Regions from separate parts of the Homo sapiens genome. Here all the other regions are linked to region 1. Evidence: fine-mapped QTL for protein levels in blood plasma. A gene starts in region 1. Each other region holds a variant in brackets. All regions are shown on one strand. Distances are from middle to middle. Region 1 holds the start of CD70 (CD70 molecule). Region 2 has its middle 22 kb from the start of CD70. Region 3 has its middle 15 kb from the start of CD70.

What was found. PIP is the posterior inclusion probability: the model's chance that the variant is causal. The UK Biobank Pharma Proteomics Project read protein levels with antibody pairs (Olink). The fine-mapping took linkage between variants from a reference panel, not from the people measured, so its PIPs are less certain.
Region 2: its variant is fine-mapped to the plasma level of the CD70 protein (UK Biobank, PIP above 0.99).
Region 3: its variant is fine-mapped to the plasma level of the CD70 protein (UK Biobank, PIP above 0.99).

Annotation. Positions count from the first base shown.
Region 1 is chr19:6,586,244-6,594,440 of GRCh38, reverse strand. CD70 (CD70 molecule) reads left to right here and starts at 3,291. Exons shown (of 3, transcript NM_001252.5): 1 at 3,291-3,600; 2 at 4,305-4,338; 3 at 8,036-8,197. The coding sequence starts at 3,439. It also overlaps the pseudogene RPL7P50. RefSeq lists enhancers at 1,472-1,571, 1,592-2,051, 3,122-3,521, 4,022-4,391, 5,570-5,649 and 3 more.
Region 2 is chr19:6,609,444-6,617,640 of GRCh38, reverse strand. No RefSeq gene overlaps it. Among named protein-coding and RNA genes, the nearest start is that of CD70, 22 kb to the right of the region's middle. RefSeq lists an enhancer at 1,444-1,663. The variant C/G (reference allele first, on the strand shown) is at 6,316.
Region 3 is chr19:6,604,279-6,608,835 of GRCh38, reverse strand. No RefSeq gene overlaps it. Among named protein-coding and RNA genes, the nearest start is that of CD70, 15 kb to the right of the region's middle. The variant AT/T (reference allele first, on the strand shown) is at 1,882.

The DNA.
Region 1 (8,197 bases):
ACCCACCCAGCAAATGCTATAGGCTCAGGCTCTGAAATCTCCCATTTTTATCTCCTTTCAATTTTTTGCTTTTTGTTGGTAATTTTGCTGTTTCAAACAGCCCCCAAATAGTGCTGAAGCCCTGTCTAATGTCCCCCAAGAGCAAGGAGGCCGTGATGAGCCTCACAGAGGAGGAAATCCACGTGTTAGAGAAGCTATCCCCAGGCACGAGTTCTAGCGCTGTTGGCTGTGAGTTTGCTGCTGATGACACTGACTTCTTGATGATTCATAGCCAGAGGCCCTTGGGACCCTAACTGTATGTATATACAGACATATTTTTCTTTCCATTTGAGAGCAGGTAATGTTTATTGAACAGCTTAGAAAAATAATTATAGTACACACCATAGTTCATTCTTCTAACAAGCCTGTTGATCTGGTCCTCCCTGTTGCCAGCATCTCCACCTTCCACGAAATGGGTGGTCTGTTTCTTCATTCTGCCTCATGGAGAAGATACTTTGAAGGACCACAGGAAGTTATGTGCTTCTTTGAAGCGTTTTCCAACAGTATGGACCTCATGAATCACATCCTCCATACAGATGATGCCATATTTTCCAAGAGATCGTGCAAAGCGTTATCTGTCAAAGCAATTCGTTTCTTATTGATTTTGCCATAACCACGCTTGTAGATTAGTTTATTTACTGACTTCAGATTTAGGTACCCGCATGCAATGTATGGCTCTACAATCCTCAGCATGTTAATTGGCCTTCACAAAGGTTCCATTGAAGATTTGACAAAGGCAAAGAAGCTGCAACACATTTCGGACCTTTGGGCTCACACCATCGATACCTCTGATCCTGATGACAAACGCCAGTCTGGATTCTGCAGGTTCATAGAAGTTGCCAGCTTTTCTTGACATCTTTTCCATTCGAATTTCAGTTCTGTACCTCTGCCTATATTCCTTGTGATAGTGCTTCAATTTTTCATAGATAAGCTTCCTCCTTGCCTTTCGAAGCATCTTTTGGGCAAACTTCTTTCTCAGGCGCTTGGTCTTCAGCTCTGTGAAATTCCTTCGCTTTTTCTTAGGGGTTTCTGGCACAGCGGGAACTTCCTTCTTCTTCTCTTCTACACCCTCCATGGTTCCAGCCGGAAAAAGAGGCTGGATCCTCTTTTTAAAAAATATATATATTTTTAAGACAGAGTCTCGCTCTGTCACCCAGGCTGGAGTGCAATGGTGTGATCTCGGCTCACTGCAACCTCTGCCTCCCGGGTTTGAGCGATTCTCCTGCCTCAGCTTCCTGAGTAGCTGGGATTAAAGGTGCCCACCACCACACCCAGCTATTTTTTGAATTTTTAGTAGAGATGGGGTTCCACCATGTTGGCCAGGCTGGTCTCCAACTCTTTTTTTTTTTTTTTTGAGACGGAGTCTCACTCTGTCACCCAGGCTGGAGTTCAGTGGCGTGATCTCGGCTCACTGCAAGCTCCACCTCCCGGGTTCACGCCATTCTCCTGCCTCAGCCTCCTGAGTAGCTGGGACTACAGGCGCCCGCCACCATGCCCGGCTAATTTTTTGTATTTTTAGTAGAGACGGGGGTTTCACCGTGTTAGCCAGGAGGGTCTCAAACTCCTGATATCAAGTGATCCGCCTGCCTCAGCCTCCCAAAGTGCTGGGATTACAGGCGTGAGCCACTGCGCCTGGCTCCTTCTTGGTGTTTCTTGACTTTCATCTGCCTCATTCAGTTTCTGTTTCTGTTTTCACACGGCTCCTTCTCTATGAGCCTCTTTTCTCTCCACCTGAGGGCCCACTCTAATCCAGTATGACCTCATTTAAGCCTAATTATATCTGCAAAAAAAACCCCGTAATTTCAAAATGAGGTCATATTCTGCAGTTCCAGGAGGCCATGAATTCTGGGAGGACACCGTTAACCCACTACAGCCATCGAGAACAGCAGCAGGAGGCTGGATGCGGTGGCTCACACCTGTCATCCCGGCACTTTGGGGGACCTACGCAGCAGGATCGCTTGAGCCCAGATGTTTGAGACCAGCCTGGTAACATAGTAACACCCTATCCTCTACCCCCCCCAAAAAAAAAATTAGCCGGGCATGGTAGCGTGTGCTGGTAGACCCAACTATGCAAAAGGCTGAGATGGGAGGGTCACTGAAGCCCAGGAGTTTGAGGCTGCTGTGAGCTGTGTGGCGCCACTGCATCCAGCCTGGGCAACAGAGCAACACTCTGTCTCTAAAAATATTAATTTAGGCCGGGCGCGGCGGCTCACGCCTGTAATCCCAGCACTTTGGGAGGCCAAGGCGGGCAGATCACGAGGTCAGGAGATGGAGACCATCCTCGCTAACATGGTGAAAACCCATCTCTACTAAAAATACAAAAAGTTAGCCGGGCGTGGTGGCGGGCGCCTGTAGTCCCAGCTACTTGAGAGGCTGAGGCAGGAGAATGGCGTGAACCCGGGAGGCGGAGCTTGCAGTGAGCCGAGATGGCGCCACTGCACTCCAGCCTGGGCGACAGAGCGAGACTCTGTCTCAAAAAAAAAAAAAATAAATAATAAAATAAAATAAAAATAAAAAATAAAAATATTAACTTAATTTAACTTTAAACAAAAAAGCAGGTGGTCTCCAAGAATGCAGGAGATAACTGACCGGGTGCAGTGTCTCATGCCTTTAATCCCAGCACTTTGGAAGGCCAAGGCGGGTGGATCACCCAAGGTCAGGAGTTCAAGTCCAGCCTGGCCAACATGGTGAAACCCCATCTCTACTAAAAATACAAAAAATTAGCCAGGCATGGTGGCGCGCGCATGTTACTCCCAGCTACTCGCGAGGCTCAGACAGGAGAATCGCTTGAACCCAGGAGATCGAGGTTGCGGCGAGCTGAGATGGCGCCACTGCACTCCAGCCTGGGTGACAGAGGGAGACCTCCGTCTCAAAAACAAAACAAATCAAAAAAATGCAGGAGAGGGGTACACGAATATTTGGGGAGCACCCCCAATTCTTGGATGTCTGCTGTATCCCCAGTGCACAGCACAATCTAATCCCTAATAAATGTGCAGTGGAGGTTTGTTGAATAAATGAATGGGCCCCAGAAGAATGAGGTGGAGAGGGGAATAGGAAGATTGAATGTCTCCTGCCTGAAGGTCGGGCGGGGAGGGGTTGGGGGCAGGCAACTCTGAGGCTCACCCGGGGCCACTGCCTGCATCCTGGCAACTGCCTCCACCCACTTTAGGATCTTCAGACTGGCAGCGGTTGGAGGGAATTTCCCCTCGCCAATTGCTCAAGTCCCTCCCCTCGACCGGCCGGACATCCCCAGAGAGGGGCAGGCTGGTCCCCTGACAGGTTGAAGCAAGTAGACGCCCAGGAGCCCCGGGAGGGGGCTGCAGTTTCCTTCCTTCCTTCTCGGCAGCGCTCCGCGCCCCCATCGCCCCTCCTGCGCTAGCGGAGGTGATCGCCGCGGCGATGCCGGAGGAGGGTTCGGGCTGCTCGGTGCGGCGCAGGCCCTATGGGTGCGTCCTGCGGGCTGCTTTGGTCCCATTGGTCGCGGGCTTGGTGATCTGCCTCGTGGTGTGCATCCAGCGCTTCGCACAGGCTCAGCAGCAGCTGCCGCTCGAGTCACTTGGGGTGAGTTGAGATGGAAAAGTTGGGAAGAAAACATAGAGAGGCGCGTGACCGAAAAGACAGAATGAGATGGGTACAAAGAGGCCAGAGAGGAAGATCTGGTAGGGCAGAGACAGAGACCAGAACAGGGAGGCGAGGCGGGGACCAGGCTGCCCGGTGTAGGGGCTACGAGACAGGCAGCCCTGCCAGGAGGTACAGGGAGATCCCGGGATGGGAAAGGTAGGCACACATGGAAATGGAAGATGACTCGGCTCTGGTGTTCCCCCGGCAGGCTGACTCAGAGGCTGCTGGGGGCTTCACAAGGCTGGGCGTGGGGGCTTCCTGGGGCCTCCTAGGACGGGATGGCCCCAGCCACTCGCTCCGGGTGGGGGAGGGGTCCCTTTGGGGACCGCGCCGGGCGCCTTTGCAGCGTAGAGAGTCCGCTGCGCGCGGTGCTCTCGCGCCCAGTGACATCCAGGAAAACGATTCGGGAAACGAAGAAGTTCTTTTGAAGGTCTCGACTTCACGTTCCCCGCTGGTTCAGACCTGCTTCCTCTTTAAGAAGTCTTAAGAGTAAAAAAAAATAAAATGAAATAAAATCACCAGTGCGCGCCGTGGGATGAGAGGTGGAAAGGAGGATGGACAGAGAAAAGAGAGCTCCTGGCACAGGGGACACATAGAACCTCTCTGCTTACGTCCGTGCCCTGTTTTCTGGTCTTTTCTTCCAGTGGGACGTAGCTGAGCTGCAGCTGAATCACACAGGTAACACGGGGGACGTGGAGGGACGGGGAGAAGAAGAGGCACAGAGAGAGAAGGAAGGAGAGGTAGAAAGACAAGTGGGGAGAGACAGAGAGAAAGAGACACAGACAGAGACGGAGGGAGAGAGGGAGGGAGAGATAGGGAGGGAAACGGAGAGGGGGAGACAGAGAGAAGACAGAGAGGGAGGGAGAGGCCCAGAGAAAGGGAGGGAGAGACAGAAAAAAGAACAGAGAGAGGGACAGAGGGGACAGACGGGACAGGAGAAGAAGGGGAAAGAAAGAAACAGGGAGAGACGCAGGGAGAGTGGAAGAGGGAGGGAGGGAGACAGGCGGGGGAGACAGAACGAGAGAGAGGGAGAGAGACGGAGAAAGAGAAAAAAGACAGATAGAGGAAGAGAGAATAAAAACGAGAGAGGCGACCTGGCGTGGTTGCTGGAGCCTGTAATCCCAGCGCTTTCGGAGGGCGCGGCGGGTGGATCACTTGAGCCCAGGAGTTTGAGACCAGCCTGGCCAACATGGTGAAACCCCGTCTCTACTAAAATTACAAAAATTAGCCGGGTGTGGTGGCAGGCACCTGTAATCCCAGCTACTCAGGAGGCCGAGGCAGGAGAATCGCCTGAACCTGGGAGGCAGAAGTTGCAGTGAGCCAAGATAATGGCACTGCTCTCCAGCCTGGGTGACAGAGGGAGATTCTGTCAAATAAATAAATAAAAAGAAGAAAGGAAAAGAAAAAGAAAGAAAGGAAGGAAGGAAAAGAAAGAGAAGAAGGAAGGAAGGAGAGAGGGAGGGAGGTGAGAGAGAGAGAAAGGAAAAAGAAAGAAGAAAGAGAAAAAAAGAAATAAGAGAAAGAAAAGAAAGAAAGCCAGAGAGAGGAAAAGAGAAGGAGAATAACAGAGAGGAAGAGACAGAGACAGAGAGGGGGAAGAAGAAAAACAGGGCGGGGGAGAAAGAGATCATTCCCAAGAGAAAAAGGAAAAGGGAGAGAACGAGAGAGAGAGAGAGGAGAGAGAGAGCGAGCAGGTTTGTGTTTCTGGGCATCCACTACCTTTCTCTCCCTTTCCCTCTCAGTCCTTCACATTCGATCTCCTCCCTTGGAAGAATCAAAGGGGTTTTGTTAGTAAACGAAAACGCTCACAGGAAAGGCTACCCTTCCTCCATTCATGCTACAAGCACTAATTATACATCTGCAGTGGGCAGGCACTGTTCCGGTACTGCAGTCGCGCACAAAACAGACAGAAATCCCTGCCTGGTGAGCTTCCCTTCTACTATCACTCCTACCGAGGAGGAGATGACCAAAAAAATAAAAACGAACATGTGAAAAACAGAGCAATGCCACGTAGAGTAAAACAGGCCAAGAGCAGGTTTTAGAGAAAAAATCAGGCAAGGAGGTGGGTGGGGAATCCGGGCATGCCAGGGTTGGGGATTTTCATTTAAAGTGGAGTCGCGGCGGTCGGGTGGGGGGGTGGTATCTGAGTGGGTGGCATTGGCAAGAAGCCTTGAGGGAGAAGAAATGAACAGTTCTGCTCTAGGTGGAAGTCTCTACCTCCTCCCAGCCTCTCTCGAACGCTTCTTCCTCTTCTGTTTTTCCACGGTTCATCCCCAGAGACTAAAATTACTGCACGCTTGCGTGTTTTGTTCCTTCCATTTTGTAATGGAAGGGACCTTTGTTGCTCTCTCTTCTCCTTGGGTCTCTGACCCCTGATATATCTTCCCCCCCTCCCCGGCCTTTGCCATATTTTTCCTGTAATTTGGTCTTGAGGCCCCTTTCTGGAGAGTGGCTGTCCAGCCCCACATCGATGGGGCACCAGGGGTGGTGGCCACAGGTGTTGACAGTGTCTTTCACAGGACAGCTCTTTCTTCTGGTGGATGATATCATGCCTAAGTGTGTGACAGGGGACCAGGTGTCACTCTTACAGGAAATTTGCAAAGCCTGGTAAACACCCTTGGGGCTCCTGTTTGACCCCGTTCAGTTCCTTCCTAACAAGATAGCCAGTCTCCAGGAGAGCCTTGAGTGAGGAGGAGAGTGAGGCTCAGGTGTGTCAGTCAGATAAGTTGCGGAGACAGGAGACGCTGAGATGAAACACGTGAAATATAGCCGAGGACCTTGGCTCCCGGCTGTGATCCCAGCGCTTTGGGAGGCTGAGGTGGGAGGATCGCTTGAGCCCAGGAGTTCTAGACTATGTTTCTTGGGAAACATAGCAAGACCACCATCTCTAGAACAAAATTTTGAAAATTAGCTGGTCATGGTGGCGCATGCCACCTCCCAGTGACTCGGGAGGCTGAGGTGGGAGATAGCTTGAGCCCCAGAGGCTGAGGCTGCAGTGAGCTATGATTGCACCACTGCACTCCAGCCTGGGTGACAGGACCAGACCCTGTCTCTAAAGAAAATAAAGATCCTAGAGAGAAGAGGGCCAACGGGAAGGTAGGGGAGCTCTCTGAGACACACACTCAACCAGCGGGTGGAAAGCAAGAAAAAAAAAGGGTCCTGGGAGCCAAAGCTTTTATTGGCGTTCAGGGTGTGACCCGAGCAGGCGTCCCTTGGGGAATTCTCTCGTGCACTCTCTTGCGCGCTGTCTCGTGCGCACGCTGTCTCTCTCGTGCTGTCTGTCTCACTCTCTCAGGCACTCTCTCGCTCACTCCCGTGCACTCTCGAGCTCTGTAGCTCTCATCCTCTCTCACACACACACTCTCCCATGCACTCTCTCGAGCTCACTCTCACACTCTGTCTCGTGCACTCTCTCTCAAGCTCTCTCGTCCTCTCTCACACACACACTCTCTCTCTTGCTCTCTCTCTCATGCTGTCTCTCGTACTCTCTCCTGCTCTCTCGTGCTCTCTCTCACTCTCTCGTGCACTCTCCCTCAAGCTCTCTCGTCCTCTCTCTCACACTCTCTCGCTGTCTCATGCTCTCTCTCCCTCATGATCTCTCTCTCTCTCATGCTGTCTCTTGCACTCTCTCCTGCTCTCTCGTGCTCTCTCGCACTCTCTCGTGCACTCTCCCTCAAGCTCTCTCGTCCTCTCACACACTCTCTCGCTCTCTCATGCTCTCTCTCTCATGCTCTCTGTCGCACTCTCTCGTGCACTCTCGTCCTCTCTCACACATACACTCTCTCTCTTGCTCTCTCTCTGCATTCTCTCTCTATATATCTCTCCCTCCCCCTCTATCTTTACCCTTGTCTGTTTCTGTTTTTTTTTTTTTTTTTTTTGTCTCTCTCTCTCCTGGTGTCTCTCTCTCCCTGTCTCTACCCCTTTCCCCTTACCCCTCTCTCCTTCCCTTTAGATCTCTAACCTTCTATCCCCCTCCCTTTTTTTTGAGACAGGGTTTCTGTGACCAAGGCTGGAGTGCAGTGGTGTGATCATAGCTCACTGCAGTCTCAGCCTCCCAGGCTCAAGCGATCCTCCAGCCTCAGCCTCCCAAGAGTAGCCAGGACCAGAGGCGTGCACCACCACACCTGGCTGACTTTTTATTTTTTGTAGAGATGGGGTCTCGCCCTGTTGTCCAGGCTGGTCTTGAACTGCTGACCTCAGGTGATCCACCCGCCTTGGCCTCCTAAACTGTTAGGATTTCAGGCATGAGCCACCACGTCCAACCTATTCCTTGATCTCTAACTCTCGATCTCTATATCTGACTTTCTCTATGACCCCCTGTGCCTCAGTTTCCCTAAACCTCCATCCTCTCATCCCTCTAACCCTGTGCCCCCAGGACCTCAGCAGGACCCCAGGCTATACTGGCAGGGGGGCCCAGCACTGGGCCGCTCCTTCCTGCATGGACCAGAGCTGGACAAGGGGCAGCTACGTATCCATCGTGATGGCATCTACATGGTACACATCCAGGTGACGCTGGCCATCTGCTCCTCCACGACGG
Region 2 (8,197 bases), 23 kb before region 1:
TTTTTCATCTGGAGTTCGTTGATGTCCACTTCTTTTGTGTCAGTTTCTCATACTTTATTTTGTTCTTTTGGTGATGTCATGTTTCTCTGATTATTCATGATCCTTATGGCCTTGCATTAGTGTCTGTGCATTTGAAGTAGTCAGTTCTTTACATACTGGCTTTAGCAGGAAAAGCACTTTGCCAGTCAGCCTATCTAGAGATTCTAGGCAGCCTGTTTGGTGGGGAGTTGCTGGTGGACTTCTCGCTGGAGTCCTTGAGAGGGATTGCCTGGTGCCTATTTCAGCAAGAGAGGAGGCTTGGCACCTGGTTCCACAGGGGCTGACCTGGTGCCTGGATCCCCTGGGATGGAACTGGAGTTTGAGTCCACATGAATGATTGCGTGTGTGTGTGTGTGTGTGTGTGTGTGTGTGTGATAACAGATCAATTTTAATTCTAGCACCTGAAGCTATACAAGGGTATGCTCTATAAACTTCATGGGACTGTTGCACATGCTGGATAAAATGACATCTGTGCAATACCACTTAGCATCTCAAAATCAGGAACATACTATTGAATTGCTTAAACACAATCCACAGAATTAAAAACAAAAGCAGATGCCATCCACAGTTACACTAATTGTCCATTAAAAGTTTACACTTAATGCTTGATATAACAATCAATATCTAGCAGGGAATATTGAAAGGGATTTCAGAGTCTCATCCTGTTGTACTCTATTGGGAAGGTTTCTTGAGTACATATGTGACTGGCCAAAGATGGATACAACCAAGACCAGACCAGCAAGTAAAAGTTCTACAACAGTTTCTGTAGTTTCCACTTGCTTTTCTCTGGACAGCCTGTATCCGTGTTCGCTAAAGTGGAACTCGGGCTCAGGTCTGCAGTGCAGCCAGGAACTCACTTTACTCTCCATCCCCCATGAAGTGGGTTTCTCTCTCTGTGCTGCCTTGGGTTCAGGAAGGGGATGATGCAGATCAAGTGAAACTCTTTCCTACCATCTTCAGTACATCTTTTCTTTTCTTTTTCTTGTTTTTCTTTCTTTTTGCCTTTTTTTTTTTTTTTTTTTTTTTGAGATGGAGTCTCGCTCTGTCGCCCAGGTTGGAGTGCAATGGCGCGATCTCGGCTCACCGCAACCTCTGCCTCCCGGTTCAAGACATTCTTCTGCCCCAGCCTCCTGAGTACCTGGGATTACAGGTGCGTCCACCACGTCTGGCTAATTTTTTTTTTGTATTTTTAGTAGAGATGGGGTTTCTCCATGTTCATCAGGCTGGTTGGAACTCCTGACCTCAGGTGATCCACCCACCTCGGCCTCCAAAAGTGCTGGAATTACAGGCGTGAGCCACCATGCTCGGCCTATCTTTTCTTACCGTTATTTTCCATTCAAGTTCTGTGGTCTCTCAGCTGATTCTTTGACTCTTGTGAAAGTATTTTTCTGCACAGAAGATTATTGAAATGAATGTTTCTGTGAAAGGATAAAGGTTCGAAACATATCCTGCCACATTGTTGACTCACTCTCAGAGTCATGCCCAGTCTTGCCAATTTCCACTGTTGAATAAGGGGGATTCCACGTGGTTTTACTTTTTTTTGGAGTAATGTAGCTAAATATGCTCTCTAGTATTGTCCACTTGTATATTATTTTATGTGAAGTGTTGCTTCACATCTTTTATATCTTTTAAAAGTAGGTTGTCTTTTTCTTTTTGCCTTACAGAATTTTTTTTTTTTTGTGACAGAGTCTCGCTCTGTTGCCCAGGCTGGAGTACAGTGGCACGATCTCAGCTCACTGTAACCTCTGCCTCCCAGGTTGAAGTGATTCTCCTGCCTCAGCCTCCTGAGTAGCTGGGATTACAGGTGCACACCACCACGCCCAGCTAATTTTTTTTTTTTTTTTTTTTTTTTTTTTTGAGAAGGAGTCTTGCTCTGTCGCCCAGGCTGGAGTGCAGTGGCATGATCTCGGCTCACTGCAAGCTCCGTCTCCCAGGTTCATGCCATTCTCCTGCCTCAGCCTCCCAAGTAGCTGGGACTACAGGCGCCCGCCACCATGCCCGGCTAATTTTTTGTATTTTTAGTAGAGACGGGGTTTCACCGTGTTAGCCAGGATGGTCTCGATCTCCTGACCTCGTGATCCGCCCGCCTCAGCCTCCCAAAGTGCTGGGATTACAGGCATGAGCCACTGCACCCGGCCAAGCAATTATTTTTATAATCCCACTGGATTGTAGTCCCTGATGGCACTAATACCACACTGTTTAACTTGCTGTAGCCTTTTAATAAGACTCAATATATAGTAGAGTCTCTCCATTCTGTTCTTTTTACAGATCATCTTGTCTTTCTTAGTTCTTTGCATTTCCCTGTGTTTTTATTAGAATCAGTCTCTCTCTCTCTCTCTCCTCTCTCTCTCTCACGCGCACACACATACACACACACACACGTATACTTCCTGCTGAGGTATTGACTGGGATTGCATTGAATCTATAGATCAATAGATATTGGTGTAGAATTGGTGTCTTCATGGTATTAAATGTTCCAACCTCTTGGCCATGGTATATCCTTCTATTTATTTAAGCTTTCTTTAATTTTCTCAGTAACATTTTATGGTTTTTGGTGTAGAATTTATATAGTGCTTCCATTAGATGTAGTCCCAGGTATTTGATATATTTTTGTTGAGTTTGTAAATGACATAGTTTTACATGTCTTTTCTAGTTGACAGTGGTATATAAAAATATGATTTATTTTTGTACTTTGGCTTTGCCTCCGGTGTTGTTGCTAAATCAATATATTAAAACTATGTGTAGGCCGGGCGCAGTGGCTTATGCCTGTAATCCCAGCACTTTGGGAGGCTGAGGTGGGCGGATCCCCTGAGGTCAGGAGTTTGAGACCAGCCTGGGCAACATGGTGAAACCTCATCTCTACTAAGAATACAAAAATTAGCCGGGTGTGGTAGTGCATGCCTGTAATCCCAGCTACTCAGGAGGCTGAGGCAACAGAATTGCTTGAACCCGGGAAGAGAAGGTCGTGGTGAGCCAAGATATACCACTGTACTCCAGCCTGGGCAACAGAGCAAAACTCTGTCTCAAAAAAAAAAAAAAAAAAAAAAAACTATGTGTAGGTTGGGCGTGGTGGCCCACACCTGTAATCCAAGTACTTTGGAAGGCTGAGATGGGTGGATCACCTGAGACCAGAAGTTTGAGACCACCCTGGCCTACACGATAAAACCACATCTCTACTAAAACTACAGAAAAAATTAGCTGGGTGTGGTGGTGAGCACCTGTTGTCCCAGCTACTTGGGAGGTTGAGGGAGGAGAATTGCTTGAACCTGGGAGGCAGAGGTTGCAGTGAGCCGAGATTGCACCACTGCACTCCAGCCTGGGCGACACAGTGAGTCCATCTCAAAAGTAAAAATAAAACTATGTGTAGATTATTTAGAATTTTCTTTTTTTTTTTTTTTTGAGACAGAGTCTCACTCTGTCACCCAGGCTGGAGTGCAGTGGTGTGATCTCGGCTCACTGTAAGCTCCACCTCCTGGGTTCACGCCATTCTCCTGCCTCAGCCTCCCAAGTAGCTGAGACTACAGGCGGCTAGTTCTTTGTATTTTTAGTAGAGACAGGGTTTCACCGTGTTAGCCAGGATAGTCTCGATCTCCTGGCCTCATGATCCACCCACCTCGGCCTCCTAAAGTGCTGGGGTTACAGGCGTGAGCCACAATGACTGGCCTAGAATTTTCTACATACATAATGAAGTAATCTCTAAATAATGACTCATTTCTTCCTATTCAATCTTTTTGTCTCATTGCATTGACTAAAACCTCAAGTTCAATATTAGCTAACTCATTTCCTAATTTTAAAAAACGTGCAGCTCACTGCCAGAGTTCATTTAACTTTACATAAACACACTTGTTGAGGCTGAAGCAAATCTGGTTGAGTTTCAATGTGCAAATAAAATATAAAAACTGTTCTTGGAGTTATTTCTGAACAGAATTTGTCTCTAATCCTAATGTAGCAGAAATGTATATGATGTTACATTGGGATTAGAGACAAGAGTATTCTCGGGGCAAATGGGAAATGGGTTAAAAGTAGTAATAACAATCCTGGCCGGGTGTGGCGGCTCACGCCTGTAATCCCAGCATTTTGAGAGGCCAAGGTGAGCAGATCACCTGAGGCCAGGAGTTCGAGACCAGCCTGGTCCAACGTGGCGAAATATCATCTCTACTAAAAATACAAAAATTAGCCAGGCATGGTGGTGGGCACCTGCAATCCCAGCTACCCGGAAGGATGAGGCAGGAGAATTGCTTGAACCCGGGAGTTGGAGGTTGCAGTGGGCCAAGATTATGCCACTGCACTCCAGCCTGGGTGACAAACTGAGACTTCATCTCAAAAAAAAAAAAAAAAAGAGAACATAAATTATTCTACTATAAAGACACACGCACCATATGTTTATTGCAGCACTATTTACAATAGCAAAGTCATGGCACCAACCCAAATGTCCATCGATGATAGACTGGATAAAGAAAATGTGGTACCTATACACCATGGAATACTACGCAGTCATAAAAAGGAAAGAGATCGTGTCCTTTGCAGGGACATGGATGAAGCTGGAAACCATCACCCTCAGCAAACTAACACAGGAACAGAAAACCAAACACCGCATGTTCTCACTCATAAGTGGGAGCTGAACAATGAGAACACATGGACACAGGGAGGGGAACGTCACACATCGGGCCTGTTGGGGGGTGAGAAGTGAGAGGAGGCAACTTAGAGGACGGGTCAGCAGGTGCAGCAAACCGCCATGGCACACATATACTTATGTAACAAACCTGCATGTTCTGCACATGTATCCCGGAACTTAAAGTTAAAAAAAAAAAATTGACCGGGCGCGGTGGCTCACACCTGTAATCCCAGCACTTTGGGAGGCCAAGGCGGGCGGATCACGAGGTCAGGAGATCGAGACCATCCTGGCTAACACGGTGAAACCCCGTCTCTACTAAAAATACAAAAAATTAGCCGGGCGTGGTGGCAGACACCTGTAGTCCCAGCTACTCGGGAAGCTGAGGCAGGAGAATGGCATGAACCTGGGAGACGGAGCTTGCAGTGAGCCGAGATCACGCCACTGCACTCCAGCCTGGGCAAGAGAGCAAGACTCCGTCTCAAAAAAGAAAAAAAATTAGCCAGGTGTGGTGGTACACACCCATAATCCCAGCTACTCAGGAGGCTGAGGCAGGAGAATGGCATGAACCCGGGAGGCAGAGGTTACAGTGAGCTGAGAGCACACCACTGCAGTCCAGCTTGGGCGAAAAGAGCCAGACTCCATCTCAAAAAAAAAAAAAAATCACCAACATATTTTCTATCTCTGGTTTCTCAAAAACTAAGGATTACTTACCTTATTAAATCTTCACATACCCCTACTGAATCCCTGGGTAGATGCGTTCTCTCTGTTTACTAACCAAAATATTAAATATAATCATTGCAACTCTCTCTTATGTCTTCCAGTGGTCAGAAGTGTATCATAGCATTTCATATTTATCTTATCTTTGTAACCTGCATTTTTACCAGTTCAATATAATTTTCACATATTGATTGCTAAAGAGTGAAATGAAGGAATTAGGTTAAAATGTTTTTATTGGAAACTATCATGTCAAGTACCTTTTTTTTTTTTTTTTTTTTTGAGACAGAGCCTCACTCTGTCACCCAGGCTGGAGTGCAGTAGTGCGATCTCGGCTCACTGCAACCTCTGCCTCCCGGTCTCAAGCGATTCTCCCACCTCAGCCTCTCAAGTAGCTGGGACTACGGGAGTGTGCCACCTCACCCAAGGAATTTTTGTATTTTTCTTTTTTGTAGAGACAGGATTTCACCATGTTGCCCAATGTGGTGAAGTACTTTTAATGTGGAAATTTCCAATAGCCATATGAGTTTGGGCATATCTCAGAAAGTCAGCAAACAGTGAGATCAAGCAAAAAGACGGAGTAGAAAGCTCTGGGAGCCCCTCCCTCCAGTGAAATAAACAGTGAACTGAGGGGCAGGAGACACAGAATCAATGATTTCAGAACTAGTCATCCTGTTGCAGCACTTATAATAATGAGAGGAGTGCTTGATGAAAAGAGAGACTGAGACTTTAGAAAGAGAACAGCCTTCACAAACCAGCCCCCACTCCCCATTCCTCCGTCCGAGTGGGGCAATTTGGAGACAGTCCATTTTCCTCAAACAGGTGACCAGTGCCAGAGCAGGCAGTTGAGACCTTGGCCTCCAAAATTTGGGGAATTTGCACTCTACTAGGTCTGGCAATTCCTGAGAAGCCAATAAGATGCTTGTTTTGGCTCTCTTGAGTCCCTT[C/G]GTATCCCTCAGACTTAGAGGTTCGATGCCTTGTAAAATCTTTGTCATGTTACTAACTGACCACAAAATGGAAAAGACACTTCAGTGATCACACCCAAAGGATACACAGTTGCCAAAAAACAGTCGGGAAAAGTCAGAAATGAATAGTTTCAGCCTTCAGTAAGCAGAAATCAGCAATCCATGAAGACTTGGAGCATCGGAGTTCCAGACTTATGAATCATAATACTCAGGATGTCCAGTTGTAATTACAAAGCATAAAGACATAGGAAAGTATAACTCATTTACAATAAACCATGATTTAACATATACTGTTACTAGGGAAGCCCACACATTGAAACTATTAGTCAAAGACATTAAATCAACTGTCTCCAATGTGTTCAGTGAGATGAAGGAAAATATGGACAAAGAACTAAAGCAGATCATGAGAATGATATATGAAAGAAGTGAGAATGTCAATAGAAAGAAATAAATTATTAAAAATTCACAAACAGGAATTCTGGAGCTGAAAGTTACAATAATGGAGGTGATAATTCATTAGACGAATTCAAGAACAGATTTGAGTAGGTAGAAAAAAGATCAACAAACTTGAAGATAAGGCAACCATAAAGTTAGCAAATCCAAGAAGCAGGGGAAAAAAGTGAAGACAAATACACAGAGCCGGCCGGGTGCGGTGGGATGTTAACAATGGGATTGTTTGTGGAGCAGGGGGCTCTAGGGGTGTGTGGGAACTTTTTGTATTTTCTGCTCAATTTTGCTGCGAAACTAAAACTGCTCTAAAAAGACTTTTTTTTTTTTTTTTTTTTTTTGAGACGGAGCTTCACTCTTGTTGCCTAGGCTGGAGTGCAATGGAGCGATCTTGGCTTACCGCAACCTCCACCTCCCAGGTTCAAGCAATTCTCCTGCCTCAGCCTCCCAAGTTGCTGGGATTACAGGCATGAGCCACCACACCCATAAAAGCCTATTTTTTAAAAAGTTTTGACTAGTACCTTTTCCCCATTACACCTCTGTCCCACTCATCCTTTAAAATGTATTTTGACTGTGATATCAGCTGGGGCATGACTTCAGAGGAAAAGGTATTGTATAAAAGGAACTCTGGAGTCAAAATAAAGTTTGAGTTTTGAATTTTGGCTTTGCTTTATTTATTTATTTTTATTTATTTATTTATTTTTCTTTTTGAGACAGAGTCTCACTCTGTCACCTAGGCTGGAGTGCAGTGGCACGATCTCAGCTCACTGCAACCTCCGCCTCCTGGTTTCAAGTGATTCTCATGTCTTGGCCTCCCAAGTAGCTGGGATTACAGGCACCCGCCCCCATGCCTGGCTAATTTTTGTATTTTTAGTAGAGATAGGGTTTCACCATGTTGGCCAGGCTTGTCTCGAACTCCTGACCTCAAGTGATCAGCCTGCCTCAGCCTCCCAAAGTTTTGGGATTACAGGCGTGAGCTACCACGCCTGGCCAGCTTTTACCTTTAATAAGGTACTTAACCTTTTTAAAACCTAAGTTTTCTTATCATTGTTCACTGTGTCCTTTCATATACGTACGTTATGGAAATATCTATGGATTGTTTTTAAAATTCTAGTTGTTGCTGAAAATTCACAAAAGGCATCTCAAGATAATACTACTTATCTCCCAGGGCTGTTGGAATATTAACTGAGACCATTTTGTTGCTGTTGTTTTTGTTTGTTTTTTGAGACCATATTTATTTTTAAAATAAAAACAGAATGCAAGAAAGTTGGCCTGACACAAATGGGAACTCATCAAATGCAATCTCCAAGAGGGTAGGAACTTTGATTTCTGCACTATTGTATTAATACCTTGGAAACAGCAGGAACTCAGAAATATATGTTCAGTAATTTTAAAAAAAAAAAAAAGCTTGGCTAGG
Region 3 (4,557 bases), 16 kb before region 1:
CTCATGCCTGTAATGTCAGCTACTCAGGAGGCTGAGGCAGGAGAATTGCATGAACCCAGGAGGTGGAGGTTGCAGAGAGCCAAGATTGTGCCACTGCACTCCAGCCTGGGCGACAGAGTGAGACTCCTACTAATAAATAAATAAAAGAAAAACTAAGTTAAAATTTGTAAGGGCATAAAACATAATTTTAATAGGAAGCTATGAGAATTATCTACACTTGCAGATAATTGAATGAGCTGAGTTATCTGATGATTGATTGAATGATCGAATTATAGGTAACTGTGATTTTTCTTTTTTTTTTTTGAGATGGAGTTTTGCTCTTGTCACCCAAACTAGAGTACAGTGGCAAGATCTCGGCTCACTGCAACCTCTGTCTCCCAGATTCAAGCGATTCTCCTGCCCGCCACCACGTCTGGCTAATTTTGGAATTTTTAGTAGAGATATGGTTTCACCATGTTGGCCAGGCTAGTCTCGAACCCCTGACCTCAGGTGATCCTCCCGCCTCGGCCTCCCGAAGTGCTGGGATTACTGGCATGAGCCACTGCGCCTGGCCTTTGCTACTTAATTTTATAAGACATCTACTTTTTCAAATATTTGCTGTTTTTGCTCTCATGATATGAAAATTTTTTTATTGTGAGGGAGCATTTCTATGAAAACAATAGTAGAAATTTGTGCCAATTTTGGTTATTAAAATAATAAAATTGTTGGGTTAGTTTGTTATTCTTAACCAAATGCTCCTACAGATAGCATATTGCACAGATGGTTTGATTGTTTTTTTTTCATCTTAGGTGAATTTTCCTTAATTTTATTCATCAAACTGTATTTACTTGAGATAAATAGACATTGTAGTTACTGTGTGCTCTACAGATCTCTACTTTTTTAAAAATAAAAATTCTCGGCCAGGCGCGGTGGCTCACGCGTGTAATCCCAGCAGTTTGGGAGGCTGAGGTGGGTGGATCAGAAGGTCAGGAGTTCAAGACCAACCTGGCAAAGATGGCAAAACCCCATCTCTACTAAAAACACAAAAAATTAGACAGGCGAGGTGGCGCAAGCCTGTAATCCCAGCTACTCGGGAGGCTGAGGCAGGAGAATCGCTTGAACCTGGGAGGCAGAGGTTGCGGTGAGCCAAGATTGCACCACTGCACTCCAGCCTGGGCAACAGGGCAAGACTCGGTCTCAAAAAAAAAAAAAAATTCTCAGTCAAAACTCTGACCTATTTTATAAAAATTTGGATTGTAAATACTACTTCGACGTAACTTATATGTACATTAATGATTAGTAAGTGGAGTAATTCTATTCTTTAAAGGGGGGAAGTCTATATGAGTGTATTAATTTGTCAAAATGGTACAGTTCAGATTGTACCTTTCAATATGTATACATTTTATCTAAAAAGAAAACCCAAAAAACTAATAAATTGGGGGGTAGGAAATGGGTCAAAGTATAGATGAAGCAAACATGGCATGACTAGTAGCTGTTCAACCTGGGTGACAAGTCTATTATACTATCTTTGTATTCTGTATATATTTTTGTTTTTTGAGATGAAGTCTGGCTCTCGTCACCCAGGCTGGAGTGCAGTGGCATGATCTCAGCTCATTGCAACCTCCGCCTCCCAGGTCCAAGCAATTCTCAAGCCTCAGCCTCCTGAGTAGCTGGGACTGCAATTGCACATGACCACGCCTGGCTAATTTTTGAATTTTTAGTAGAGAGGGAGTTTCACCATGTTGGCCAGGCTGGTCTCGAACTCCTGACCTCAGGTGATCTGCCCGCCTCGGACTCCCAAAGTTCTGGGATTACAGGCGTGAGCCACTGTACCTGGCCTGTATTTTGTGTAGGTTTTTAATGTTTGGTGACAAAACACTTGTTGAAAATGAAAAAAAAAAA[AT/T]TAGTCGGGCATGGTGCCGTGCACCTGTGGTCCCAGCTATTTGGGGGACTAAATAGGAGGATTACTTGAACCCAGGAAGCAGAAGTTGCATTAAGCCGAGATTGTGCTACGGCTCTGCACCCTGAACAACAGAGTGAGGCCCTGTCTCAACAAAAAAAAAAAAAAAAAAGGAAGAAGCCTATTTCAGCCTACCATGGGCAGAACCCCTTGCTGATCTGAATGTTGTGTGAGTAGAAAATAAACTTTTTTTTTAAGTGAAATAAGTTTAGTAAGAAAGTAAAGGAATAGGCCAGGAGTGTTAGCCTCACAGCTGTAATCCCAGCACTTTGGGAGGCCAAGGGGGGCAGATCACCTGAGGTCAGGAGATCGAGACCAGCCTGGCCAAAATGGTGAAACCCCATGTCTACTAAAAATACAAACAATTAGCCGGGTGTGGTGGCAGGCACCTGTAATCTCTGCTACTCTGGTGGCTGAGGCAGGAGAATCACTTGAGCCCAGGAGGCAAAGGTTGCAGTGAGCTGAGATCGCGCCATTGAACTCCAGCCTGGGCAACAAGAGCAAAACTCCGTCTCAAACAAACAAACAAACAAACAAACACAAAACAGAAAGTAAAGGAGTAAAGAATGGCCACTCCATAGGCAGAGCAGCCCTAAATACACCTTTATTGTGTAAAGTCTGGCCAGGGGTGGTGGCTCACGCCTGGAATCCCAACAATTTGGAAGGCCAAGGTGGGAGTATCACTTGAGGCCAAGAGTTCAGGACCAGCCTGAGCAACATAGCAAGAGCCCATCTCTCCAAAAACTTTTAAAATTAGCTGAATGTGAGGCCGGGCGCGGTGGCTCACGCCTATAATCCCAGCACTTTGAGAGGCCAAGGCAGGCGGATCACGAGGTCAGGAGATCGAGACCATCCTGGCTAACACAGTGAAACCCCGTCTCTACTAAAAACACAAAAAAATTAGCCGGGCGAGGTGGCGGGCACCTGTGGTTCCAGCTACTCGGAAGGCTGAGGCAGGAGAACGGCGTGAACCCGGGAGGCGGAGCTGGCAGTGAGCCGACATTGCACCACTGCACTCTAGCCTGGGCAACATAGCAAGACTCCAACTCAAAAAAAAAAAATAGCTGAGTGTGGTGGTGCATGCCTGTAGTCCCACCTTCTCAGGAAGCTGAGACAGGAGGATCACTCAAGCCCAGGAACTGGAGGCTGCAGGGAGCTATGATTGCACCACTGCTCTCCAGCCTGGGCGACAGAGTAAGACCCTGTCTCCAAAAGCAGTAATAATAATAAATAAATAATAATAAGAGGCCGGGCGCAGTAGCTCACACCTGTAATCCCAGCACTGTGGGAGGCCAAGGCGGGCACATTATTTGAGGTCAGGAGTTTGAGACCAGCCTGGCCAACATGGTGAAACCCTGTCTCTACTAAAAATACAAAAAAATTAGCTGGGCATAATGGCAGGCTCCTGTAGTCCCAGCTACTTGGGAGGCTGAGGCATGAGAATCACTTGACCCTGGGAGGCGGAGGTTGCAGTGAGCCCAGGCCACTGCACTCCAGCCTGGGCAACAGAGTGAGTCTCTTTCTCAGATTAATAATAGCAACAGTCGTAGTGATACAGGAGGTAGAAAGAAATTATTTAGGCAGATAGTGAAGGCAGCAGAGTCCTCGGCAGAGCTTCCCTTCTAACAAAAAGCAGCCCCCAAATCATTTCTTTTCTAACAAGCAGCAGCCTGAAAAATTGAGCTGCAAACATAGATAGGCACAGCTGGAAGCTTACACGGGAGAATGCCGGCAGGTGCGCCAATAGAAGAGAGCTACCCAGGGGCCAGGCAGGCCCTACATGGACGCTTCCTCTTCCCTTTTATGTTACCACGCGTGCAGTAACAGAAATGGGCAACATGGCGCAGCTCGGGCAGAGAACCTGCCTGCATAATAAAAGATTAGGGTCAGAGGCTACCAGAAATTTGCACCCTATGCAAATGCGACACATGGTCTAACCAGTTTTTCACACCCTATATAAATCAAACACCGTTTGCTCACTAGCTTCTCTATAAAACCCCCTACATTTCCCCGCTGATACGGCAACCCATTTTTCCGGGACCCCTCTCTGCAGCAGAGAGCTCTCCTCTTTCTTTCGCCTATGAAACTTCCATTCTCGACCTCACTCTTTCTATGTCTATGTCCTTGTTTTCCTTGGCTGTGAGACTGTGAACCTCGGGTGTTACTCCAGACAAGGAGGCCGTTTCAGTAGTAGCAATGATAGTAATAGTTCTCACCAGTTCCTTACTACGTACTGGCTCTTTGCTAAACAGTTTACAAATATTAATTCCTTCCAACCTCATAGCAAGCCTGTGAGATACTTTTATTACTTCCAGGGAACTGAGGCACAGAGAGGTTAAATCACTTGCTGCAGGTCACACAGCTGGTAAGTGTTGGAGCCAGAATGCAAATTTGGGCTGCAAGACCAGAATGAAGGTGGAAAAAAATGAAGCAGATTGTAGAAGTGTAGGGTTGGATCTGATCTTTAAAACATCTTTGCAATTTGTTCATCATGAATTTTTTTGACCTTCACTTTTTAGATTTTTTTTAAAATGTTGCCTGAGAATATCATTTATTTTGACAATGACAGTTTGAGATGCCCCCTTGAAATTTGCACTTGAGGCACAAAATTCTGTTAC